Homo sapiens: one gene and its partners. The protein of the gene in region 3 purifies or fractionates together with the protein of the main gene of each other region. This does not show direct contact. Each region holds a gene or a part of one and is shown on either strand. Other genes may lie near its edges. The genes, in order: NFASC, IDH3A, ME2, YTHDF3 and KDM4C.

Region 1 (7,350 bases), on a different chromosome or scaffold from region 3:
ATAGCAGTTCTTGTGCTGAGTCTTAATTTGGTTTCATTTCTGTGTCTCCAATTTGACTTACATGCCCAATAGCTTGCACAGCTCCTGACAGATTCAAAGGCTCAGGATACATTGATGAAATGAACAAAAATGGGTGTGTGGGGGAAAAGAGGGGCTACTCAGACAGATGAAACTGACAGTCTCTCTCCTTAGGCTATTTTCCCACTTCGGCTATGGATATTTGCGGGAATCTGTGGTCAAGTGTATAGCTTCTAAGGACCTCTCCTGCTTACCAACAACTTGCCCTCCCCATCAATGACTCCCACCTGACTCTGACCTCCCCATAATGCCAAATCCTTTCACACACCTTGCAGGTGTGTGAACCTTGCAGTCCTCACAATATTTTTCCTCGCCTTGCCTCTCAGCACATCCCTGTGCATCTTGCCTACACACGAGTAGCTCCCAGAGCCTCTTTCCTCTGACTCACTGACATTCTAAGCATATCCAGCCACACTTTACCCCTAAAATACAAGAGCTTAGAAGATGGGATTGGGAGAGTTAAGCAGCCTCGACCTCATCACAGAGCTCCCTTTGGGTATTCCCCTATCAGGTTCTAGCCACATCTAGCCGGGTTCACCTTGTTCACACAGGTGTTCACACAGAACATTACCCCTCTAGCCCTTCAAGCTGGGGATCTGACAACACCTTGAACCTCATCTTGTCCCCTACCCTTTTCCTGAGAGTCAACTTCAGGGTCAGCCCTGAGCTACCATTCCGGATAGCATCAGCCAAGCCCTCTTCATAGCTGTGGAGAGCAGGGTGCTGATACCACTGGAATTAAAGATCCCGCTGTGTAACATCCCTATCCGGATGCTCTTGCTCAAGCTTATCTGTTATTTGTCTGATCACCTGTCTTCCTCTTCCATTGCCCAGGAGCTCGGAGAGATTGGACCCTAGCTTACTTTTCATCTCTATGGTCTCAGCACCTAGCAGAGCAGCACACCGTAGGGCTTAATGGATCTTTGTTAAATGAGTAAGTATGAAACCGGCCTTACGTTCCTCTCACTTCTCCCCTCCCCACCCCAAACATCACCCCAGGCAAACAGACTGAGAACTGAATTTTTCTGCTTCCCCCTCTCTGATTTCCTAAGAATTTCTTTTTCTAAAGACAAAGGGATGATTCTCACACTCCAGCTCCTCCATGGTCTTGAAGATCTCAGGGTGCCTCTGGCCTCCAAAAAAGCCTGAGGGAGAAGAGTGGAGCCAGAGGTAGGAAACAAGTTGCAATATACTGATCAGAGCCTTGGCATCCTGTCTCTCACTCACCACAGAAATCAGACCCTCCTCTGGCCCACCCACCCCAGAAATGCAAAGCCAGAACCCCACCCCCAGCTCTCAGCCACCTCTTCAATGTGTGCCTTAAAAGAACCAGCCCTTGTGAGCGCAGCCAGTTCAGCCCACAGGGAGCTGGCTAGGTACAATTGGAAGGTCTTGCTCCAGCTCTCTGGGGAGCTGGCTTCTCCCTCCGTGTGCCTTGGTTTATTTCTCCGTACTCTTTCTGATGCCAAACAAGGGGGTGAGGGGTGAAATTCATTGCACAAAACTGGGAAATATGTACACTGTTATTAGAATCCCCCACTTCACCTGAGCTCCAGTCAAGCATTTCAACATCAGGACCTTAATCCAATCAGCTCTCAACAACGGCTGCAGGTAATGCTTTCTCCCTGTACCAGGAAAAGCTGGCAGCCCTTAGGCACTGATGCCAGGGAAAGCTTCCAGCCCCACCCCCTCTCACGCTGGAGAGGCGACGGAGAAGGGTGACAAAGCAAGGTGCAGCCAGTGCCCCCAGCAGCACATCCCCTTGCCAGGCACTGCCTGAGGCCCATTCAGAGTTTACTGCACAGGAGCTGAAGGAGTCCAGTCACTTGGATTCCTAAAGTGAAAGCCTTGCAGAGAAGGGACAGAGTCTGTCTGCAATTCGCTCTTAACGCCTCAATTTAAGCCTCTGGGTTTCGTCTAAGCCCCTAAGACAGGAATCGGGCTGCCATTCCCTGTTCCACAGTGGCAACCACAATTTCTGGGGCTAAGTGGGAGTGAGTCTCTTTCCTTACTGGCATAATTCTCTCTCTCTCTCTCTCTCTATACACACATCACACAACACACACACACATCACAACACACACACACATCACAACACACACACACATCACAACACACACAACACACCCCTTCAGTTGAATCCAAAGACAAGGGGAGAAATTACTCCCTCCGAAGTGCCAGCTCAGTCAAGACAAAAGGTGAAATGTATTAGCTGCGTAGCAGGCCCCCATCTCCTTCAATTCTTCCTGCAATGCAATTCCACCACATCCAATCATCCCCAAACCAGAAGGAGGATAGATCTCTGCCTGCCTTCCTCCACTGCCCCCACCTCACAGCTGGTATGGCCCCTATCCCCAGAGGCTTCCACTCTTCACACACATTTTCCCTGGGCTATTCTCCTATTGCTTTAAGTTCTGTGGGCTCTGAGGCTGGCTTTGGCTCCACACAAACAATTAAACTCCTGTCCAACCAGGTCTCAAAGCCCTGTGGCTTGCCCTTGCCTTGCTGGAGATTTGACTGAGGCCCAGCAGGGCCCAGCACATTTCCAAGGGTAGATGAGACGCACTAGGCCCTCATGCCAGGGACACAGGCAGGCAGAAAAGGGGTATTGTTGTCCTCTCCCCCACACTGAGGGATGAGGCATCTCTGCTCAACACACACACACACACACACACACACACACACACACACACCCCATGCCAAAATGCCAAGGAAGGAGTCAGGAGCAGAACCTGGCTCAGGACAGGATGGGGGCTGCCATGGGGACCAGATTCTAGGTGATTCAGCACTCTGCCCACTCTTGGCCCAGCCCATGGGCCACACTCATGACAGCTCCAGATGCCAAAGTGCTGACTTGGAGGCTGAAGCAGAATCTTTTCTAAAATCCAAAATTATCCAGCCCTCCAGCAGGGCTCCTCATCCAGGCCTTTACATCAGGGCTCAGGCCAAGCCCCAGGAGGAGTCTGCTCAGTCATTCCCCTGGACCCTGCCCCTTCCCCATCCTAGTTTCCCAATGCCTAGCACCCCCTCCCCCAATCCATCTAGGAAACAAACCTGAACAGCTAGAGGAGTAGAGTGGCTGCATGGCTGGAGAGGAACATAAGAGAGAGGCCTACTAACCCCCAGCATTCTTCCCCAAGCCACAAATAGGATCGAACATGCAGAAAGGGGTTATATTCCACAACCAAGATCCCCACCCAGGGAAGGGGGGTCCAGAGGCCACTGAGGGAGGGCTGGGTACAGGCTGTATGGCTCCACACAGCACCAGGAAGGGCAGCTAGGGAAGGTGACGGGTGTCAGGCCAGCTAACAGCCAAAGGGGGGAGAAGGCGGGGTTCTTGAGAGGGACTGTGATGCAGGAGGACACCAAGAGGCAGCTGGGAAGGGGCTGGGACAGGGCGTGCAAGGGGGAACCAGGGGAGGACAGAAACTGAGGGAGCAAATGGAGAGACAGGACACCAACTGGTAGGGGCATGAGATGGGGAAGAGAATAGGGGAGGCAAGAAGGGGCTGATGTGTGCGGTAGGAAATACAGGAGGCATGGGGTCATCCAAAGTGGGGTGTCGAGGTAAACAGAAGTACAAGGGCAGGCAGGGCTCACGGATGAGGCGGGGACAGAGAGGAAAGGGAAAGGGTTGAGGATGCGGGAAGGGGGAGGGGACGCGGCCAACGAGATAGAAAGGGTGTTGGGGTGGGCAGGGGGCTGGGAGCTGGACGGGGACGGGGTGGGCATACGAACAGAATCGGATGGATTCGGGGCAGGTGACAGTGTGGAGAGGGGAAGGGATGGGAATGTGGACGGAGGGGGAGGGGGCAGGTCAGGGGATGGAGACAGACGAGGGCGGGAACAAGGGGGTGTCGCTAGGTGGGTTTCCATGACTCTCTACCCCCATCTCTCCGGTGTTCGCGCTCGCCTACCTCCAAGGGCTCGGGCTCCGGCCCTGGGCGCTGTCCGAGCTGTCCGCTGCCGGCGCCGCCACTTCCCCCGCGTCCCCTGCAGCGCCTCTCGCCGCCAGCCGCCGCATTAGGGCAGAGACCAGCCCGTGCGCGTCCCCGGGCGGCCGGCGCGCCCCCGACACCCTGCGTGCGCGCCCCCGCGCCCCTCCCTTCGCGCTCCTAGCGGCCGCTGAGCGGGGACCAGGACAGAGGCGGAGGGAAGGATGCTCCGGACGCAGCCCCGCCTGGCGCGCTGGGGAGCGGTGCGCAGAGCCAGGGCCGGAAAAAAAAATCCTCCTTTCTCTTTTCACCTGAGGCCTCTTTGCGGGCTTGCCTGGAGAGTGATAACTAGTCTCCCCGTTTCCGTTCGCTGAGCACCTACTACGTGCAAAGCACACAGGAGGAAGTACCCTGAAGCCCCAACAGGATCGCTTGTTTGCACCTCCACCATAGACTGTGACTTTAGGGAGCAGGAAGTTGCCGGACAGCTTGTGTTCTCAGGGCCTAGCACAGAGACTTGTTTGTGGTAAACTCTCCAGCAACATTTGTTGATTGGCAAGTCGTTGGATCCTGATTCAGGGATGTGAGAGAGGTTGTGACTGCTATGAACAGTGCGGGGCTTTCTTTTAGAAATGGGAGATTTCCTCTGCCCTAGGGGGACTCAGGCCTCAGTCGTGGCTGGAGAACTATCTGACATGATAGCAAGACATTTATCTGTGGACATCAGTTTCCACAACTGAACCATGAAAAGTTGATTGGGTGGTCGCCCAAGGTCTCTTCTAGCTCTGACACGAAGACTGCATTAGGTTCTGTGCACAGGATCTGAGCTCAGAATTATCACCTGAAACAGTGGAAAGATCCCAGTTAGGGAATCATAGAATCTTTGTCTTGGAAGAGCACTTGGAAGCTTCTAGTTCAGCTCCTCATCCAAAACTACAGTCCCCTGCAGCATCCCTCTGTGGCCCCATTCAAGGGCTACTTTCTCTGTGCTCATAGCTCCTACCCTGGCACCACTGTCTTTTATTCTGGATGAGAACACCAAAGTTCAAGGAACCTGCCCAAGTAATAATTCAAAGCCCAGATGCATCTGACAGTGCCTAGTTAAAACTACTTTGCTATTTTAAGATGGGCCCTACAAGTTTTAGATTTCACCAATACTAGAATCTTCTAATATGGTCAAGTTGAAGGATCACAGGATTTGCCAAGAAAGTCCTGGCTTACCAGCAGGGTAAACTTGGGCAGTTCACTTAACCTCTCTAAGTCTTCTTTTTCCCATCTGTAAAATGGGCATAGAGTGAGCATCAATGAGATAAGGTACTGAACCAAACTGTTCTTTACAAATGTTAATTATTGTTCAGCCTTCCCTCCCCTTTCTTCATTACTTTTAAACAGCAAATACACGAAGGTCTAGAGAGATGGACCCCACACAGTGGTTTGGTGGTTGAAACTGAACTGGGACTCAAGTTTCATGGCCTTAGTATAAAGAAATTAAGTGTGGGCCTAAAGGGAGCATGGTGACCCCCAGAGGCCCTGAGGGTGAAGGTGTTTCCTTGGCCTCGGTGGTGTCCCAGAGCTGCAGGCAAGTCCTGATGGAGGGAGAGGCACCCCCTGCTGGTGATGGACTCTGGGGACTAAGAAGAGCCTACGCACCTTGCAGGCTGTTCTGCTGCTGTGTCAGGAACAGACTCACTCAGGACCGAGGGCAGAAAGTGGTTGCTCTTTTTCTTTCCTGACATTTATCTGGCCTTCCTGCTTCTTTTTCTTCCCTGGGTTTGCACCTCTAGTTCTGGCTGGAACCCTCAGCAAGCATGGACTTTCAACCCAGACCTGAAACCTCACTCACTGTGTCCTCTGTCATGGTGAATGGCAAGTCACAGGATTTTCACATTCCCTAGTGTTTCATTCCTCCCAATGAAATTCCATAAGCCCTGCCTCATCCTGGGCTCAGACCAAGAGAAAGCCCCAGGTATGAGTCTCGGGCACTTGAAGCCATCCTCTTCCACACTGGTCCCTAGGAAGTGTGGGGAAACTGGCAGATTCGTGCATCATTGGTGGAGGTTTAACTTGGTATGGCCTTTTTGGGAGAGCAATACAGCAGTACCATCAAGACTTTAATGACACCCTTGACCCATCAATGCCACCTCAAAGAATCCAGCCTGCAGAATCACTGGCCCAATCCACAAAGATGTGTATGCACAAGGATACTCAGTGCGGCTCAAGAGGACAATGATTACATCCATTGTAATAATCCATGCAATAGCACAGTTTTAAAAATTATAACAATGATAACACACACACATTTGTTTTTTAAAAAGCAAGTTAATAATGACATACAGGGAATAAAGGTATTATCCTTTTCTGGGGGAAAAGGGAAAGCAAATTGGGAGACAGGGTGGGAAGAAGAGGAAAGAGGGAATAATGCCCTGGGCTAGTTTAGAAGATAAGAGCAAAGGCCCTTAAGCTTACTAGGAAGGACCTAATTTTTGTTGAAGCCTTTCACATACTAGGCCTTTTGCATATATTATGTTACTCATTCCTCAGAAACCCCAGTGAGGTGGGGATCATTGTCCCCAATTTACTGATGAGGAAATAGATGCCCAGTGAGGTTAATAAGAGTACAGCATCACACAGATGGGGTGTGGTACAGTGTTAGCTTTGCCCCTAGAGAGATCTGACTTTTGTCCTTGGCTCCTGGGAGGTCATCTCTGAGTCCTTGGTTATCTCACCTGATAAGAGTATCTTTATCTACCTGGGGGTCTTGGGCAAAACCAGGTAGTCTATACTAACAATGATGGATGGTGGGGTCTTTGGGCATGCATCGGCTCAACCTCCAGAGGGGCTAGAAACTAAGGTCAACCACTTGGATGGTCAGCCATGACTACATGACTGAGCCCCAATAAAATCCCTGGACACTAAGGATTGGAAGAACTTCCCTGATTAGCAATATTTTGCATGCAGTGTCACACATTGTTCCTGGGAGACTTTAGCACTGTCCTCAGCTTCATCAAGAGAGAATAACTGCGATCTCTGCACATGCAACTCTCCTGGACTCTGCTTGACCTGTCTCTTCTTTTGGCTAATTCTAATCTGTATCCTTTTATTGTAATAAACCACCATTATGAGCCTATGAGCTCTCAGTTCTATGAGTCCTTCTAATAAATTACTGACCTAAGAGGGGTCTTGGGAATGCTTGAGCTTGCAATTGGTCAGAAGTAAGAATGGTCTCAGGGACTGCTTCCTAACTCTGTAGATGGTAAGTGGTGGAATTGGGAGTTGGACAAAGATCTTAGAGTCTCCAGGGTGTACCCTCTCCCACTGCACAACACTCCCTTACGCC
Region 2 (3,118 bases), on a different chromosome or scaffold from region 3:
CTGAGTGAAAGGGACAGTGACAGATAATAGTTCTCAGGCGGGCCCAAGCATTTGATGTTGAACAAGGATTCTTAACGTGGGTCCCAGATTGAACAGGGTATGTGTGCACATGTGTGCATTTTCTGAGGTGAGGATCTAGATATTTCATCCAAAAAAAGTTAAGCAGCACTGATGTATAGACATCAGTGTACAGTGGAAAGGTCAGTGGTTTGGGAGGCAGCATCAGGTGCACGCCCAATTATCCTATTGTTAGCTGTGTGACCTTGGCCAAGTTCATTGATTTTTTTTGAGACAGAGTCTTGCTCTGTCACCCAGGCTGGGGTGCAGTGTCATAATCTTGGCTCACTGCAACCTGCACCTCCCGGGTTCAAGCAGTTCTCCTGCCTCAGCCTCCCTAGTAGCTGGGATTACAGGCGTGTGCCACCACACCCAGCTAATTTTTGTATTTTTAGTAGAGATGGGGTTTCACCATGCTGGCCAGGTTGGTCTCGAACTCCTGAGCTCAAGTGATCCTCCCGCCCCAGCCTCCCAAAGTGCTGGGATTACAGGCATGAGCCACCACACCCGGCCAAGTTCATTGATTTTTATAGACAACTTTTTACTCTTCACAACAAACGTCTGTTGAGTGTACCTTATAAGGTGTGAAGAGTAAAATGATGAATAGGGTAAGATGCTGAGCCTCAAGGAGCTGGGAATCTAGTGGCAGATACAGATGCAGATGTACCTCTAATACAATAGTCTTATATGTTACACTGTGTGCATCTATAATACAAAAGCAATACAGAAGTTTTATAAAAGTAATAACTAATATTAATTGAATACTTATGCAACTTTTAAGTTCTTTATATATCATCTCAGCAAAGTTTTTCTATAACTCTTTGAAGTAGATGCTATAATTCCATTTTATAGATGAGGAAACTGAGGTACAGAGAGAATAAATAATATGTCCAAGGTTTTACAGCTCCTAAATGACCCAAGTTGGTATTAACACGCAGTCTGGGCCTTACCCAACAAGCTCCACCGCCTCGGTAAGCAATTGTGGCCTGTGGAAGAAGTGTCGCGGGCTATTCCGAAGTTAGAGGAAATAATGCACTTGAAGACTCATCCCTAATTTGAGGTCCTTTTTAACAAAAATTGTGAAAAATATGCATAACATAAAATTTGCCATTTTAGCCGTATTTAGGTATACAGTTCAATAATGTTAAGTACATTCACATTGTAATGTAACCATCACCATCAGTCATCTCCAGACCAGTTTCATTTTCTCAAACTGAGACTCTGCACCCGTTAAACAGTAACTTTCCCTTCCCCCTCCCATCCTCTGACACCTGCCATTCTGCTTCCTGTCTCTATGAATTTGACTACTCTAGGTACCTCATGTAAGTGGAATCATACAGTATTTGTCCTTTGAGTCTGGCTTATTTCACTTAGCGTAATATCTTCAAAGTTGGTCCCTTCTTTTAAAAAAATTCTGTAATTTGAAATTATATCGTGTGGCCAAAATACAAGAAATTCAGGCTTGTTTTTAACAGCCTGATAGTCACATTGGAGGTCATATGATTTTCTTATTCTTTAAAGTTATATTTGGGAAGTTATAATCTACAGCCCAGTAGAGAGGTGCCTGAATTACATAGTGGGCCCTTTTATTGTGTAGGATGGAAAGATAAAGAGAATTAAATATATTGGGGTCTGTATGCAGGAAAGAAAGGATAAGCTGGTAGAACAGATCAGTTGTATGGGAGGCTTTCTTTCCTAAAGAGGGAGGTTTAAGAGTTAATGATTTAGGCAGGTGTGGTGGTGCATGCCTGTAGTTGCAGCTATAGGCTGAGGCAGGAGGATCACCTTAGCCTCTGAGTTCAAGACCAGCCTGGGCCACATAGTGAGACCCCGTCTCTTAAAAAAAAAAAAAAGAGTTAATGATTTAAATATTTCTTTCGTATTTGTGTCCCAGCCTCCAAAAATAGATCAGATACAAAAATTAGTTGGGTATGGTGGCATGCACTTGTAATTCCAGCTATTCAGGACGCTGAGGCAGGAGAATCGCTTGAACCCAGGAGGCAGAGGTTGTGGTGAGCTGGGATCGTGCCACTGCACTCCAGCCTGGGCAACAGAGTGAGACTCCATCTAAAAAAAAAATAATAATAAAAACAAAAATAGATCAAAATATGTCTCAGGTCTATTCCTGAGACATATTTCCCAAGGATTTTTATGAAACTTCTTATTTAGATTCGCTTTTATTTAAATATCCATGACCAACTAATCTGGGTTAGGGTCTATTGTGTGAACAAAGGGAAAATTTTGGTAAAGCTCCCTGCCTCCCTTTGCATCAAGAGCACCTTATTCTTTGCAGAGTGCTGTTGTATACACTATGAGATTGGATCCCGATCCTCCTGGGCTGGGTAGATGGTGGTGGAGTGGTTCCTCACTTTGAAATGAGGAACTAAATGAAAGAGCAGCCGAGTAACTTGCCCAGGTGGCATCTCACTGAGGGCTTTAAAATCTCCTTGGTTTAGTTTAGTTTGCGGATACATCTTTTATTTTTGCTTTTTCCTTTTCTCAGAGCTTGACAAAAGATTTGGGAGGCAATGCAAAATGCTCAGACTTCACAGAGGAAATCTGTCGCCGAGTAAAAGATTTAGATTAACACTTCTACAACTGGCATTTACATCAGTCACTCTAAATGGACACCACATGAACCTCTGTTTAGAATACCTACGTATGTATGCATTGGTTTGCTTGTTTCTTGACAGTACATTTTTAGATCTGGCCTTTTCTTAACAAAATCTGTGCAAAAGATGCAGGTGGATGTCCCTAGGTCTGTTTTCAAAGAACTTTTTCCAAGTGCTTGTTTTATTTATTAAGTGTCTACCTGGTAAATGTTTTTTTTGTAAACTCTGAGTGGACTGTATCATTTGCTATTCTAAACCATTTTACACTTAAGTTAAAATAGTTTCTCTTCAGCTGTAAATAACAGGATACAGAATTAACAAGAGAAAATGTCTAACTTTTTAAGAAAAACCTTATTTTCTTCGGTTTTTGAAAAACATAATGGAAATAAAACAGGATATTGACATAATAGCACAAAATGACACTCTTCTAAAACTAAATGGGCACAAGA
Region 3 (6,725 bases):
GACAGAGTCTTGCCGTCACACAGGCTGGAGTGCAGTGGCACGATCTCAGCTCACTGCAGCCTCCGTCTCCTGGATTCAGTGATTCTCCTGCCTCAGCCTCCTGAGTAGCTGGGACTATAGGCATGCACCACCATGCCCGGCTAATTTTTTGTATTTTTGGTAGAGACGGGGTCTCTCTATGTTGCCCAGGCTGGTCTCAAACTCCTGGCCTCAATTGATCTGTCAGTCTTGGCCTCCCAAAGTGCTGAGATTACAGGTGTGAGCCACTGCATCCAGCCAGATTTGGTTTTCTCTAGGTAAACATCAAAAGCATTAAACAGAATCTATTAAATCACCACCATGCAGTATTCTCTTAATGTTCTATTACCAGTAAGTTATAAAGTCCTAAATAAAGCTCTCCTTTGTGCTTTTTAAAAGAAATATGAACATGAACAAAACCAAGAAAAAGAACTTGGCCAGGTGCAGTGGCTCACGCCTGTAATCCCAACACTTTGGGAGGCTGAGGTGAGCGGATCACTTGAGGTCAGGAGTTCAAGACCAGCCTAGCCAACATGGTGAAACCCCATCTCTCCTAAAAATACAAAAATTAGCTGGGCAGGGTGGTACGTGCTTGTAATCCCAGCTACTCAGGAGGCTGAGGCATGAGAATCTCTTGAACCTGGGAGGTGAAGGTTACAGTGAGCCGAGATCATGCCACTGCACTCCAGCCTGGGCAACGGAGTGAGACTCCATCTCAAAAAAAAAAAAAAATCTAACTTACCCTTTCTCAATTTTAAATTAAAAAATAGACACATACCTGTATAGGCTTCCCAAGTTTTCCTTTTTTTTTAAATTTTAAATTTGTGTGGGTATATAGTATAAATATATACACACACACACATATATATAGAACCAGCATTGTGTACTTATGAATTGTCTTCACTATCTGAATCTAATAATGGATATCTATTAAATGTGTACAATCTAAAAGAAGAAACAGTGGTAGAGCCTGCTTTGAGCAAACTCCATTGATTTTATTTTTAAGAGAGAGAATTTGCTATATAAGAGAATTCTTCACTGGACTTCTTTAAATAGCAAGATTTTTCAGGCTATTTTTAAATTTTAAGTTACTCAAATTTGACTTTTATACATCTTTTCAGGATTATCTTGCATAAAAGCTCCATGTCACTTTATTTCCATTTATTATTATACTGCAGAAAGTACCAGCAGTTGGCTCTAAAAGTACAAATTATATATACATGTTTCTACACTTTTAAAAATTATTAATCAGTATCATATGAATAATAATGTTAATTATAGCAGCACAGTGTTAAAAATATATATATATACCAAGTAGCTTTCTCCCCAGAATCCCCAACATGGTGACAAAAGTATTATTAACAAAATTGGGATGGTTGATACTCTGCTAAGTGATGAAAAAAAACCATTTAAATTTTATAAATTGTCATTTAAAAAAAGTTTTATATATTTTTTTTTTTAGAGACAGTATCTCACTCTGTCACTCAGGCTGGAATACAGTTGTATAATCACAGCTAACTGCAGTCTTGAACTCCTGGGCTCAAGTGATTCACCTGCTTTAGCCTCCCAAGTAGTTGAGACTACAGGTACAAGCCACTGTGCCCGGCTAATTTTAATATTTTGTACAGCTGGCGTTTGCTATGTTGCCCAGGCTGGTCTTGAACTCTTGGCCTCAAGCAATCGTCCGATCTCAGCCTGTGAGTTGCTGGGATTAGAGGCATGAGCCATCACACCCAGCTAAAAAGAAGTTCTAAAAGAATTCATCATATGTTTATGTGGCTCTTCCAGGAGAGATAGCATTATTTACTACAGTTAAAACTTTGGGCCTGGCGTGGTGGCTCATGCCTGAAATCCCAGCACTTTGGGAGGCTGAGGCAGGCAGATCACCTGAGACCAGGAGTTCGGGATCAGACTGGCCAACATGGCAAAACCCTGTCTCTACTAAAAACACAAAAAATTAGCTGGGTGTGGTGACCGGCGCCTGCAATCCCAGCTACTCGGGAGACTGAGGTGGGAGAATTGCTTGAACCCGAGAGGCGGCGGCTGCAGTGAGCCGAGATTGCACCACTGCACTGCAGCCTGGGCAACAAGAGCGAAACTCCGTTTCAGACACACACACACACACACACACACACAAACACACACAAACTTTGGTGATTAGTACTGCAAGGTAGGCAAATCTAAAATGGTATGGAATACATTTTATTTTGAATCAAAGGCAATCCCCAAAAAATACATTTTGGAATCAGTAGTTAAGATCAGGTTGCTGATATACGAAATCTTCTATTTTCAACTCCTAGTTAAAATCTTGCTCCTATCAAATAATGAATTTGGGCCTGGCGCAGTGGCTCACGCCTGTAATCCCAGCCCTTTGGGAGGCCGAGGCAGGTGGAACATGACGTCAAGATTTCAAAGCTATCCTGATCAACATGGTGAAACCCAGTCTCTACTAAAAGTACAAAAATTAGCCGGGCATGGTGGTGCGTGCCTGTAGTCCCAGCTACTCGGGAGGCTGAAGCAGGAGAATTGCTTGAACTCAGGAGGCAGAGGTTGCAGTGAGCTGAGATCACGCCACTGCACTCTAGCCTTATGACAGATTGAGGCTCTGTCTCAAAATAAACAAATAAATAAAATAATGAATTTGGCTTGTATATAAAGATAACACCACCTCTCAAATCTACCTCATAGAAAACTGTGATGATTAAATGAGAGAATATATGCAAAAGAGTATTATAATTAAAGATAAAACATATATTATTCAAACTATTAGATAATTTTATTAGCAAGTGATAGAGTAAAATAAAATATAAAAGTAATTTTAATAGTGTCTTTAGTAGGCATAATTAAAAAAAAACTTAAGGAAAAAAACAATCTTTGCCGAAATTGGAACTTAGAACACTTACAGACAGAAACAGACAGGTGGGCTTAATATCTGCTGGAGACAAGACAGAACGAGGAAAACACACACCTAACTCCTTATGTTACACAAAGATGACAGAAGGAGAACTATAGGAGTGAGTGAAGTAAAAACAGGAAATAAAAGAAGGTGGGGATTCGAATTTTGAATGACTAAGTAAAATCAAGCTATTTACTGGAGAGTTTCTTTTTTTGTTTTTTAGACAGAGTCTTGCTCTGTCACCCAGGCTGGAGTGTAATGGCACAATCTTGGCTCACTGCAACCTCCACCTCCTAGGTCAAGCAATTCTCCTGCCTCAGCCTCCCGAGTAGCTAGCACTACAGGTGCCCACCACCATGCCCGTTTACTTTTTTGTATTTTTAGTAGAGATGGGGTTTCACCATATTGGCCAGGCTGGTCTCAAACTCCTGATCTCAGGTGATCCGCCCGCCTCGGCCTCCCAAAGTGCTGGGATTACAGGTGTGAGCCACCACACCCAGCAGGAGAGTTTCTTGAATACTGGAATATGCCCGTGGTTTCTTGCCCTGGTATGGTCACTGCCTTGCCCCTTCCATGAGTAAGCACAGACAAAAGAACTACCTCAAACAGGGAAGCAGTGGAACTCACCCTCTGGGTGGTATTTACAAACTGGACTGGGACTAAAGCTGTTAAGACATTGGCTGCTGGAGACTATTCTCCCTGGCCCCCTACCTGGAGGGAGAAGGAAATAGTCAACACCTGAGAAAGACTGTTCACAGGAGACCAAAACCCTAGACACTGTTCACTAGAAAGAGCTCATGACAGGGCAACAAGCACAGGCTTTGCTGTCAGACAGACTGGAGAGTGAATCTGGACTGGACTCAGCTAATTACCAGTTCAGAATCAGTTGTGTCACCCAGGCATTCCTGAATGATCTCTGAATTGGTGTTAGTTTAGGACATGTTTTTGACTGGTCTATGACCAAAGGAGGAAAAACTAACACAATGTAATATAGTTTTTCATAATATTAAATTTATTCTGTTTTTATGTTGTAACTATGACCTTCCTACCTTTGTGGTGGTAAAAATGTCCCTTTTTTAAGGAAAGGATCAGGACAGTAGATTGCAGTAGTTTTTTTGTTTGTTTTTTTGAGATAGAGTCTCAAAAATCACTGTCGCCCAGGCTGGAGTACAGTGGTGTGATCTCAGCTCACTGCAACCTCTGACTTCCAGGTTCAAGCGATTCTCCTGCCTCAGCCTACTGAGTAGCTGGGATTATAGGTGTGTGCTACCATGCCCAGCAAATTTTTGTATTTTTAGTAGAGACGGGGTTTCACCATGTTGGGCAGGCTGGTCTCGAACTCCTGACCTCAAGTGATCCATCCACCTCTGGCTCCCAAAGTGCTGGGATTACAGACATGAACCAATGTGCCTGACCAGATTGCAGTAGTGTTTAAGAAGATTCTCAACCTTGACAGAAATAAAAGTTGGAGATCTTACGTCTGGTCCCAATTGTCCCCCACACATAACAGTTTTTTACTTGTTGGCAAAGTCCAAAAGTCTGGAAGCCATTGACTTAGATGTTTCATTTTTCTCATCAATAAAGTGGGGGAGGGGAAACTTGCAGAATTCTGTGTAGTAATGTTGATATATACATATTATTAATAGTGTCAAGCCTTTAGAGCTTTACAATAGCATCACTATAAAGAGCTTGACTACTTGATTTCAAAGTTTGCTTTAAAAAACCCATACGAAATAGTCTAGCAGAGTGGTCAAAGGGCAAGTTCTGGAGTCAAACTGCCTGGATTTAAATCCCGTGGCGAACACCTGTAATCCCCAGCACTTTGGGAGGCCAAGGTGGGTGGGTTGCTTGAGCTCAAGAGTTCCAGGTCAGCCCGGGCAACATGACAAAACCCCATCTCTACAAAAAATTTAAAAACTAGCTGGGGGTAGTGGCACACACCTGCAGTCCTGGCTACTTCAGAGGCTGAGGCAGGAGGATGGCTTGAGCATGGGAGGTTGAGGTTGCAGTGAACCATAACAGCACCACTGCACTCTAGCCTAGGTAAAAGTGAGACCCTCTCTCAAAAACAAAAACAAAACAAAATAAATCCTGGCTTTGCCATTTGCTAGCTCTGTGATGCTGAGTAAATCACAACCTCCCCAATTTGCATTTTCTCATCAGTAAAATGGGAACGTTAAACTACAAGACCTATTTAATAGGCTATTTTAAGATTTAAATTAGATAATTCATTAAGATGCTTATCACAATGCCCTCTAGGTGCTCTAGAAAGGCTAGTTATCATAAGCATTACTATTAGTAGTTGTAGACTAAGGTGGTCACAAGGTGCCTTCTAAATGCCTGCTTGTTTCTGCATCAACATCTTTTAATGATCAAATTAATATAAGAGGCTATAAGGATAATCATGATTAACATTTATTCAAAATATTTCAAATCAAATCTCAAAGTCAAGAATGAGAATCTGGATGGTATACAAATACAGGCAACATCAAATGTCATCCTAAACAAGTATATACAGAATATATTTTTTATCACTTTTGAAATTTGTACATATTGATCAAAGGAGGTACAATATGCCACCATAAAATCAAAATCGTAACTTTCAAATAAAATAGTTAATTTCTAATAAAAGTTATCTTTTTATAAAGTCAATGTAATTTTTATTTAGTGTGAATTTTGTCCTGTAATATTAATCCTTAGTAAATATAGGTTTTAATGTTATTTGTGTTTTAAAATACGGCTAGTTCACCGGGCATGGTGGCTCACTCCTGTAATCCCAGCACTTTGGGAGGCCGAAGGAGGTGGAGCACTTGAGGTCAGCAGTTCGAGACCAGCCTGAAAAACATGGTGAAACCCTGTCTCTACTCAAAATACACACACACACAAATTAGCCGGGCATGGTGGTGCATGCCTGTAGTCCCAGCTACTCAGAAGGCTGAGGCAGAAGAAGCGCTTGAACGCGGAAGGCAGAAGTTGCAGTGAGTGGAGATCGCAACACTGCACTCCAGCCTGGGCAACAAGAGCAAAACTCCGTCTTAAAGAGAATAAAATATGTCTAGTTTGTCTGAAATTCACCAAAATCAATTAGAGTTTTTAACTTAATATACAGATTATACATACATAGCTGTAAGTTTTTAATTTTACAAAAGAAGTTCCCAAATGGTAAATGGGTTTTTTCCTTTATGAATATTTTGTTTTCATAAATATATTAAAAGACAAAAACATATAAACACCCTCTAAGGGTGTCACCCATAAGCAGTTCTCAGAAATAGCTACTAAGCATAAATATATTATTCTCAAGAGAATATTTCTACAGAAGCATAGCCCAACATTTCCTATTAATGCATGATAAAAGTCATATTAGGAGCTAGGCGCGGTCGCTAACGCCTGTAATCCCAGCACTTTGGAAGGTCAAGGTGGGTAGATCACTTGAGGTCAGGAGTTCGAGACCAGCCTGGCCAATACGGCGAAGCCCCCGTCTCTATTAAAATTACAAAAATTAGCTGCCCTCAGGTGATCCACCCACGTCGGCCTCCCAGAAGTGCTGGAATTACATGCGTGAGCCACCGCGAACGGCCTATATGTATGTTTTTAAAAACAACTGTTTCTCTCATCTAATTTACAGAGTATTTGTAAATTGAAAATCAAAATTATGGGTACAACATCGCAATTAGCTTAACAACATGAGCAATGCTTAAGGAGTATACACGTTTAAGGGAGTGGGGGTGGAGGATGCAGCTATGAAGTTAGACCACTTGAGTTTGAATCTAGGCTTTGTCACGTTAAAACTGTGGTCTTAGGCAAGTTACTT
Region 4 (3,333 bases), on a different chromosome or scaffold from region 3:
GTTTTGACAACACAAAACAATTCTGTAATTTTCCTATCTGAACAAATACCTTAGATAGAGAGCCCAGCAATAATCAGTGCATCACCCAGAGTTGCCATGATCCTATCCACATAAACTATCAATCCCAAGAGGTAATGCAGACAATGTCAGAAAAACATTCCTTGGTACCAAGAGTGGGGGATTAGGATTATTAGCTGCTGCCACTATTTCCTCCTGCTACAAAAAACAAACAGGCCTTCTCTTTCTCTTTTGTTCTAAACTTAGTATTAAAAGCATGTAAGTCAATAAGCTCCTTGGAATGGATAAAAAATAAGGTAAACTGTTACCCTCCCTCTGATTAACTGCTCTGTTTAATTTAAAGTCAACCAGAAGGAGTGATATAATCTATTTGTACGTGAAAGATATGTCAATCAGGAAATCCATAACAGAGTAGGCAAAAATGTTACGTTTTCTGGCAAGCAATACATATTCATGAAGATAAAATGGAAAGAACACAGATATGAGTGAACAATTTTTATTGAAACCCTCAAAGATTAAAGAGGACCAAATGGTGAGTTTGGGTACCATAACAGAAAATCTCACCTAACTGTACCATCATTCACAGGAATGAACAAACCCAAACACGACAAAATTCAAATTCTCATGTAATTGCTACAAGTGAATGTAAATGAACTAATCATTTTATCATAACCTTCCTTTAATCATACGAAAAAGGGAATTTACATGGCATAACAAAAGATATGCAAAACTTAATGAAAACACAATTCTCTTAAATTTCTTAAACTTATTTTTAAAGGATGCAGAATGCACTTGAAATGATTAAATGACTTAAGCTGATTCATTTTTTTTTATTGCAAACTGTTTTAACATCAGCTTAACCCCCATGCACGGTATTCAAAAAGAACACAGCTTTCGAATTAGAAAGATCACTTAAATTAAAAAGAGAAATTAAGTACTAAAATTAGGAAAACGCTGGATTTCTTTTGAAAGGAATCTTCAAGTACCAATACGTATAGAGAAATACTAATTTTGGTTACAGTTTCCTCCTTACTGTTAAATATACAAACTATAATACCTTTCAAAATAAAATACCCACATAAGATAGCTTTAATAAGAAATATTCAAGCCAGAACTTGGAAAAACATTAAGCAAGAAATTTACTGGGCTGATAATGTCTTAATTTGTGATCATTCAAACATTTGATGATGTGTCTCCTCTTGTAGACCCCAGGCTCTCTCCCTTTTGGTCCCCACAGTTAAGAGACATTCAGTTGGTTGTGCTTGAGACAACCTGTGATAATTTCATTCAGAGGAAAAATATTTTGCAATATAATGACAGACCAAGAAGGAAGAGAAGGTGGGTGCTCTGGAGAAAACTTATATGAGAAAAACACAAAATTATCACTTGAAAATAAAAAGATTTTTTTTTCCAAAGGAATGCTGCACCCATTTCACTTAAGATTAGAAATCCAGGTTAAAGGCACTGGGATGTACTCCTCACCATGAATAGACTCTCAATTACATTTATTCGCATGTCTGAGTCTATTGCAATCAGCCTGCTTGCTGAGTGCTTCCATGACACTCTTACATAAAAACCTAATGTAAATTAAACATGTTTGAAACCGTTTATAATGTAACTAGTTTTATAAAAATATCCAGAGTTGCTAATAAAGCACCAAGAAAAAGAGAACCTCAGGGGGAGGACTCAGATCCTTCCTACAAGGTCACCCTTTTATAATATTCTCTAATAGGACCTCCAGAATGACAACAGTCATCTTTGACATGTCCTACCTAGATAATCTTAGGGATGTAGAACATTGCTGTGGTGACTATACCCAAATGCCACTTTTCATTATAAATAGTTAAGAGACATGTTACAAGATTTCATGGCTTACTCTTAAAAAGGTAAAATAGGTGCAATTTTCCTTTAAGAAAGTCTTTATTTTATAATATACCATTAATATTTTGATGTTCCCTTCAGTAAACACTGATATAACTACACTGGGACTACCGAAGAACTGTGTAGTAGCTATGGTTATCTACAAATACTGTATTTTTTTCACTTGAATACAGTATTTGCACATTTAAAAAAAACATTGTACAAAATAAAATTATATAAATGAAAGCCTCAAAGAAATATCCATCACTAGGTCTTTGAGCTGAAGTGACCAAAGACCACAGTAAATGAAAACATTTCTAAACATGATGTAAACATAAATGAAGTAATGCAAAACATCAAGGTATTCAAATCTACTGTATTGCTATTTTCACCCTTAATGTATCTTTCTACATAGCTTTCTCCTTTTGGAACAGTAATACATGGGGCAGTACATTATTTTCATAACCTTATGCCATCAAATCAATTAATACAGATGCTTGACACATTTAATTATACAAAATCAATTTGCTTCAAGATACAAAATTAATGTTGATATGTAATTAATGAAAAAAATAAGATGTTAAAAAGATAACTATAAGAATATCCAGATATATGCTGTATTCCCACTTATATAGATCTGATCAATAAAACATCAACACATTCACTTAGATACTGATTTAATCCATGGATCAAGGCCATATTTTCAAAGTATTTTAAGGATGCCAGGACACTGCAAAAGCTGGAGAAAAGAGCTGAGGAACAACATATGCTTGCTAAACAAGAACTATGTTTATTTAGCTAGTGAATACCTAGAGTAATAAATTTTTACTTCATGATAGCAATCAGGCTCGCAAACACCCAGAAATAGGAATTAAGGGTTTTAAATGTAGTTATAAAGGTCATAAAAAGTCTGATTAGACTGAGGTACATTTACTCAAAATTTTGAGATTCATTAAGTGGTAGCAAACAAAATAATTCCTCAGACAAATGCACATTTTTCAGTATACATATTAATGGGGGGAGGAGGGAAGAAGAATGTGCATTAACTGGTGAAATCCACCAAGCTGCATATCAATATTCTGTTACACCAAACAGTTTGAAGACAAGGGAAATGTTCTAATATAATTTCAGATTATGTTTCATTTGGCTAAAATAGAGCTTAAGGTTGCTTTGCCATATTAAAAGTTTACTACAATAATTTTTCACATCAACATTTAGACTTGAACTCCAGGACTAAATATGGCATGATTATTTTGCTTTTAATCTGTCAAATAGCTAAAAATCGACAATTTAAAAACTACAACAAAGAAAAAGTTGAAGCAGTGTGACTCTTACATCATTGAACCACTTCTAATGGTTAACTGTTAGTATTTAACAAATTCAAAGAGTTAATGAATCCTTGCATTCATTCAGTCTTCTGTGCCTTAGCTAGGATGCATAATTACAAAAGACAGC
Region 5 (6,725 bases), on a different chromosome or scaffold from region 3:
ATTTTTAAACACTAGTACATTTTCAGGCTGTTTTAAAAAAGAAAAATCATGTTACATTAGTTCAAAACTATGCATCAAAGCATATTTATTTAAACTCTAATTTTACAAACACATAATGAAAGAAACATATATTTTATAAATATCTACTCGGAATATGTATTATGAAAAAAAGTGTTTAAAAATAACAGCCCCAGATCTCCCTCTTTAAATATATAAAATTCGCATAACAATTCATAAGAATTCTTTCTCAAGAGCCAAAAATTTCATTTCACAAAGGCCAACAACTCAGTTCCCATCAGACACAATCAAAAGTAATAGGAATATTCAAAAATGTAAAAGTTCTGTACAAGGGAAATACAGATAGCACACGGGTAAATCTCATTAGCATACATGCCATTTGTGTTTTAAAAATGTTTTATAAAAACTGCAATTTGAAACAAATAAGTGAGAGTCCTTCCCTGACTGTGGAAAATATATAAATTATCGCCCTACCCGCTGGGTACCGAGGTGCCACCTGCTGGAGCTAGAGAGAGAGGTCCCCGTGTGTTTCCTGACAGGGCCCTAAGCCGCACAAGGGGACCCGCCTCCTCTGTGGCAGTGGCTTTTCCTTGTGGGTGATTCACTAGTATTTCCTTTCACTTAGAAAACTTCTTTGGGATCATAGAAGACAACTGCTCACAAGTGAAAGCAAGACTAGAGATGATTTCAGATTGCTGCGTCCAATTCATTGGGTGTATTTTGTATTTTTGGTGACCAAACTCTGGAAACCCGATTTACCACTGTCAGAGACACACCCTGTCACCTATGCCAGCAAAACTCACGGCACAGCCCCAAGGATGTCCCTTCATCTTCTCTCTTCCAACCCAAGCTGCTCTGTGGCCTGCAGCGATGTATGCAGACTACTGTCTCTTCTGGCACTTCTTCTGGAAAGAGCTCTTCAAAAAAGTGCGGTATACAGGGTCGGCCACATATTCATTCTTAAACCTGGAGCTCAGCACTCTTTGTCTCTTTCTCTCCCCTTGGATAATGTCTGCTCCATAAAACGTGTCTTCAAATCGCATGTCAGAGGCTGTGGACTAAAAGCAGCTGGTGTTATATTGCAAAAGGGCACGGCATTTGATCTTCAGAACACTGGACAAAGATCTGACTCGGTCAGCTGGGGTTAGGGTGCAGATGCCCAGGTCACCAGCTCAGGCTAAAAGGGCCCCAGGCATGGCTTTGGGCTTTCCCTCGCCTCTCCCACCCAAAGTGGGGGGCTCCATTTAGCCCTACTTTCTCCAGGATCTCCCCACCCTCCAACCCCAGGGACCTTCCCCAAACAAAAGCAAGATTAAAGTCTTCTCGTTTTAAACTTCCCTCATTTTTCATCTCCCCTCTGTTTTTGACAAATGTCAACAGTCATCTCTAAGTTACCTTTACTCCTACTTAGCTTTGGGCCTCTGCCCCACCCCTTCCCTGAAACTGTTCTTGCTGAATGAAGTCCTAGTTGCTAATTCCTGTGACACCTTCCTATCCCTAAACTGACTTGACTAGTCTGCCAACTAATTACTGCTTAAAGCTCTCTTCTCTGTCATTTTGTAAACCCACTCTCCTGCTTCTCCTTCTCTGGCTGCTCACTTTTGATGTCTCAGGGGTTCCCTTTCTTAACTATCTGCTCAACTACGATGCCCTAAGGTTTGGCACTGGGCCTTCTCCTCTCCACTCCTGTTCCCTGGGCCTTTGTGCCCACACCCCTGGCTTCAGTGTCTGCAGGAGATGCTCACATCTGCTCCAGCTCAGGCCTGTAAGTGCATTTCCCCAGCAGGCATCACAAAGTCCCTGTCTCAGAGGCCCTTCAAATCAACCTGTCCTAAATTGAACTGAAAGCCTTCCTTCTTCATTGCTGTCCTTCCTACATTCCATAAAAGGCACCACCATGCCCATGCACCCAGTTACATTGGCCAGAAACCTAAAGGCACTGTAGACATTTCCCCACCGTGTCCAGGATTCCTCCTGCATGTACCTTGAAGCCCTTCAGCCTTTCTTCTTGATCCTTACCCTATGGGGCAGGCCCTCACCTCTGCAAAGCACTGCAATAAATGCTGTACCTCCAACCTATTTCCCACAGTACCACTGGAAGAAAGCTCTCTAAAAGCCCTCTTATTATAAGACTCTACATGATCATATGCCCTTGCTTGTAATTTTCCAGCAACCTACTGCCTTCAAGATGACATCCCCACTCCCCAGGCTAGACCTACATAACCTGGCCAGAAGCCTGCCCCGTGCTCTGCTCAGACGGCATCAGTTGCAGGGCCTGGTCATACTTGCCTGGCTCAGGGCCCCATGCTTCTCTGTCTTTGGACACACTGTTTCATTTCTGTGAAAGTTATTCTATTCTACTGTCTCTGCCCTCGGCAAGCTTAAGGGTCCTTCTTTGGGACTCCTGTGGCCCTGACACATCCACTCAGTAAGAGGAGGGCAGTGGTAGAGGTAAGGGGCAAGTAAGTTTCTCCCCATCAGGGGAACCCCATAAAGGTGAGGATATTAGGGACTGTGTACCCAATTTTACATGTGTTCCCCACAGCAAACAATGTGGCTAGTATTTGGCTGCTGTTCAGTAAGTGTTTGCTGAGTGAGGGCATGTGGCTTTTTCTGTGATAATCAGATAAAGCCTAAAGTCTATGGTAGGCACTATTTTTGCTTCCCAATTCCCTACTATCTTGCCTCCTAAAATGCACTGGCAGCTGTTTTCACTGAGGTGGATGACTTCTGATGACATCAACACACAGCACATTTCACTGTGCTGAGACTGCTTCCCCTGGCTGCTGGCAGAGGCAGAGGTGAAAGACACTTTAGGACTTGAAAACACACGGTCCATAGTAAAGAAGAGAAAAACAAGAAAACAGCCACAAGGAAGCCTGAAAACAAAAAATGTACCGAAGCGTAAAGCTGTTCATGTTTCCAGCCAGTTCATGGGACAGTTACTCAGGGTAACAGGCCACCTCCACGGCTTCCCCCACATACCACCTAGTTTCACTAGAGAAGAAAACTAAATCATTATGGGCTGGTTGGGTTCCCTCTGCCATTAGGAGAAAACACTTTTGTTTCATTCATTCTTGGCAAAATACTTCCTCTGAGTAATCTTTCACTTGTGTAAGTGCTAAAGTTATCAAAGAAGAAAATAAAACATCTATGAAAGTGTTGCCACTGTGCAGAAACAGCAAAAGTCGGCCTCTCAAATACAATAATAAAACCGATTTACCAGGAGCTCTAGCTAATTATGCACCGTTGCTATGGTTATTCTGTGAGACAATAAAAGGTAACGGGGCTGCTTCTGAAGTGAGTGGAAAAGAACCCCACACAATCACTGAGGTGGACTGCTGGCTCTTTTGAACAGTTTCTCCCCCAGTCAGCGTGTGTCTGGGTGAGCCGAAGTCATTAAAATACAAGGCCTCCTGACAAGGGCGGCTAACCTCCATCCTTAAAAAACAAAAAAGACTTTTCTAACCATAAAACATCTTCCATCAATGAGTTTTCCAATTAGATTTGTTTTGCCAACTGGAAAAAAAATAGTAATAATCATGGACAGACTAACCAAGGGTCTGAGGGCTATGTACCAACCCAGGGGAGAAACAGGCTGGCTACGACAAGACTGTGTATGTCTTTGATTCAATAAAGGTGGCCAACAGGACTTAGTGACCGTGAGCCTTTGTTCCCTAAGATATTTTCTACTTGGCTTAGCCGCTCAGAATAGCAGGCTGCATTCAGAGTGTATGGATGTGATTTACATATTTTCACTTTTTTTTTAATTAAAAATTTTTTCAGAGAATAAAAAAAAAATTGAATGTTGGTGAGCTTGTTCAGTGAAATAGACCTTAGAAAATCCAGGACCTGTGTTCCGAGACAGCCACAGGGGAAGGCATCCTGGTATCTGAGCGAAATCTACTGTGAAACAAAGAGATTGTGATCAGAGTATGAAAGCAATGAGCTTTCTTCTCATGTGATTAAGAAACAGTATTTGAAATCTACAAGACTCAGCTGGTAGGATGCTTAGTCATACATCGATTAGAAAATGAAAGACCCAAGAGACTTTGAGAGGCTACCTACTCCACTCCCCATCCTCTAAATCTCTAGGTGCTGAAAAAGGAAAAGAAAGGAGCGGGAGGAGCTGGGAATAAGGCAGGGAAGAGGGGAGTCCAAGGAAGACAGGAATACAGAACGAGACGAAGCTATCTCTAACATCTCGAAAAGGAAAGTTTTTCTCAAGAAATTTCAGGTCTCAGAACAGCGACAAGTCATCTAAGGTTTTTCGGTCTTGGTAAGATTTGGCTGGTATCTTTACAACAGGAATATTTAATTTTTTCTTTGCTTGCTGTCATTATCTAGTAGTTACTCTATTTACAGGTGTGTGGGTCCCCTCTGAGCCACATTTCCCATCGAGTGGGCAGCAATACCACCACTCCTCTTGACGATTTCACTTTGAAGGACCTTCCTCTGAAGGATGCAGCTGAGAGGAAAGTCAGTTCCCACCTGATGCAGTTACTCTGCTGTCAGGATCCCATCTGACTGGAAAAAAGCTGCATACACAACTGAACGTTTAAGGCAAGCGTGTCCAACCCATGGCCCGCCGGCTGCATGCTACCCAGGATGGCTTTAACGCGGCCAAACACAAATCTGTAAACTTGCTTAAAACATTATGAGTTTTTTTTTGCTTTTTTTTTTTTTTTTTTTAGTAGCTCATCAGCTATTGTTAGTGTAGTTTATGTGAGGCCAAAGACAATTCTTCTTCTTCAAGTATGGCCCAGGGATGCAAAAAGATTGGACATCCCTGATTTAAGAAAACCCTTGGTTTTTCCAAAATAACCAAATAATCTATAGTGACTCTATCACTGCAGACAAGTATATCATAAGCACTCACTAAACTGAATTATTCAGAAAAAAAATTTCATTTTAGTCAGAAAAACCCCATCCATTCAAATTTCTCTATTTAGGATTTATCATTTCACAGACACAATAGATATAATTCTAAATGAATAAAACTGACTTCATTTCAGGGTCCACTGAATATTTTATGATACAATAATATGAAGTCTAAATTATTGTGAATTATATTTTTCAATGACTGCAGTTTTGAATATTTGTCCATGTTTGTTCATCTTTTAATGGTATGTGAGGGCATGAAACTACTATTTCCTTTTTAAAAAACTGCTTTAGTATTCCCACAACTAGCATTTAGGCTTTGTTTATCCCTTTTATTATGAAAGTCAGAGTTTAGCTTAATGATGAACTGACACAAACATCAGTAACTTTCTGAGACAGAAGGTAGTCAATCCATGAAAAACCTATAAAAGAATAGACAGACATTCAATTATGCCGAGTCCCCTTTGATCTACTCCTGAATACTTTTAATGTTGCTTCTACTAACAAGATTGCAAATGCCTTGATGGTATCTTTGTTTGCTCCTGGTGTTTTACACAGAGCACACATTCAGTAAGTATTTTTGTGCACCAATAAATGTCAACACAAAGAAGCATCATGTGACTTCATTAGAAGAAAAGTAAAGCACATGCATTAATTTCCCCGATTTTGGTTGAATTTGAAGTTTGCATTCAATAGGTTCCACTAAGGAAAATGTTGCATTGGCTTTTTTTAGAATTAATCCAAAAGCCCAAGTATGTTTCCTGCTGGGCTTGGGAAACATGAGGTGAGGACAAGGAATTCACTTGGCAGGTCCCCAAGTGGCATCTGCCAGCACTTACAAATCGAGCTTTCACTCTCTTGGGTAACTCTTCATCTAAAGTGTAGATGTCCTCTCTCTTCATTGCTATCTGGGATCCATCTTCAAACTCAACCTAATGAAAGATAATATAACATGATACATATTAAAAAAACAGCACTGACCATTTTTAAAGGCTCCAATTAACTACATGAAAAGATGAAAAGGACTCAAACAGAACAAACAAGGGAACCAGCCAACAACCAAGGAAGTAAGAAGAGTTATTTCCCTTATTAAGTAGAGGCCGGGCATGGTGGCTCACGCCTGTAATCCCAGCACTTTGGGAGGCTGAGGCAGGCAGATCCCAAGGTCAGGAGATCGAGACCATCCTGGCCAACATGGTGAAACCCTGTCTAACAAAAATACAAAAATTAGCCAGGCATGGTGGCGCATGCCTGTAGTCCCAGCTACTCAGGAGGCTGAGGCAGGAGACCCGCTTGAAGCTGGGAGGCAGAGGTTGTAGTGAGCTGAGATCGCACCACTGCACTCCAGCCTGGTGACAGAGTAAGACTCCGTCTCAAAACAAAAAAATAAATAAATAAACTAAATACAAAATACATTTCAAAACAGGCCAAAATTCTTGGAAATGAGTGTCTTGGAATACAGGATATGAAAACTTTATCTGGCGAAGCAACAACAAAGAAAAGTAGCTGCTGATCAAATGGAAATCACAAAACATGAGACTGTGGGAAATTCAGCATTAAAATGGGTTGGGTCTGTCAGCACGGTTCATTTCTTTAAGAGGCTCTGACAACGTAACAAGGAGAATTGTTTCTCTCTGTGAAAGAAAAGATAATATATTTCCTTTTTTTTTTTTTTTTTTTAAATTGAGACAGGGCCTTGCCCTGTTGCTCAGGCTAGAGTGCAGTGGCCTGATCTCAGCTCACTGCAACCTCAACCTCCCAGGCTCAAGCAATCCTCCCACCTCTGCCTCCTGAGAAGCTGGAACCATAGCTGTGTGCCACAACGC

Evidence for each region.
Region 1: the proteins of ME2 (region 3) and NFASC fractionate together in Homo sapiens (co-fractionation; one large-scale study listed by BioGRID). This does not show direct contact.
Region 2: the proteins of ME2 (region 3) and IDH3A fractionate together in Homo sapiens (co-fractionation; one large-scale study listed by BioGRID). This does not show direct contact.
Region 4: the proteins of ME2 (region 3) and YTHDF3 fractionate together in Homo sapiens (co-fractionation; one large-scale study listed by BioGRID). This does not show direct contact.
Region 5: the proteins of ME2 (region 3) and KDM4C purify together in Homo sapiens (affinity purification with mass spectrometry; one large-scale study listed by BioGRID and IntAct). This does not show direct contact.

The regions. Positions count from the first base shown.
Region 1 is NC_000001.11:204,825,428-204,832,777, reverse strand, and holds the start of NFASC (neurofascin isoform 1 precursor), read right to left. Parts: upstream 4,127-7,350; 5' UTR 4,103-4,126; coding exon of another isoform or gene 3,996-4,102; intron 1-3,995. UniProt on the Homo sapiens protein: Cell adhesion, ankyrin-binding protein which may be involved in neurite extension, axonal guidance, synaptogenesis, myelination and neuron-glial cell interactions.
Region 2 is NC_000015.10:78,166,362-78,169,479, forward strand, and holds part of IDH3A (isocitrate dehydrogenase [NAD] subunit alpha, mitochondrial precursor), read left to right. Parts: intron 1-1,106; exon of another isoform or gene 1,107-2,014; coding exon of another isoform or gene 2,015-2,124; exon of another isoform or gene 2,125-2,560; coding exon 2,561-2,644; 3' UTR 2,645-3,118. Other genes in the region: long-chain-fatty-acid--CoA ligase ACSBG1, read right to left, coding at 2,015-2,124. UniProt on the Homo sapiens protein: Catalytic subunit of the enzyme which catalyzes the decarboxylation of isocitrate (ICT) into alpha-ketoglutarate.
Region 3 is NC_000018.10:50,880,272-50,886,996, reverse strand, and holds part of ME2 (NAD-dependent malic enzyme, mitochondrial isoform 1 precursor), read right to left. Parts: intron 1-6,725.
Region 4 is NC_000008.11:63,209,954-63,213,286, reverse strand, and holds the end of YTHDF3 (YTH domain-containing family protein 3), read right to left. Parts: 3' UTR 501-3,333; downstream 1-500. UniProt on the Homo sapiens protein: Specifically recognizes and binds N6-methyladenosine (m6A)-containing RNAs, and regulates their stability. M6A is a modification present at internal sites of mRNAs and some non-coding RNAs and plays a role in mRNA stability and processing.
Region 5 is NC_000009.12:7,168,904-7,175,628, reverse strand, and holds part of KDM4C (lysine-specific demethylase 4C), read right to left. Parts: intron 5,832-6,725; coding exon 5,739-5,831; intron 1,077-5,738; coding exon 900-1,076; 3' UTR 1-899.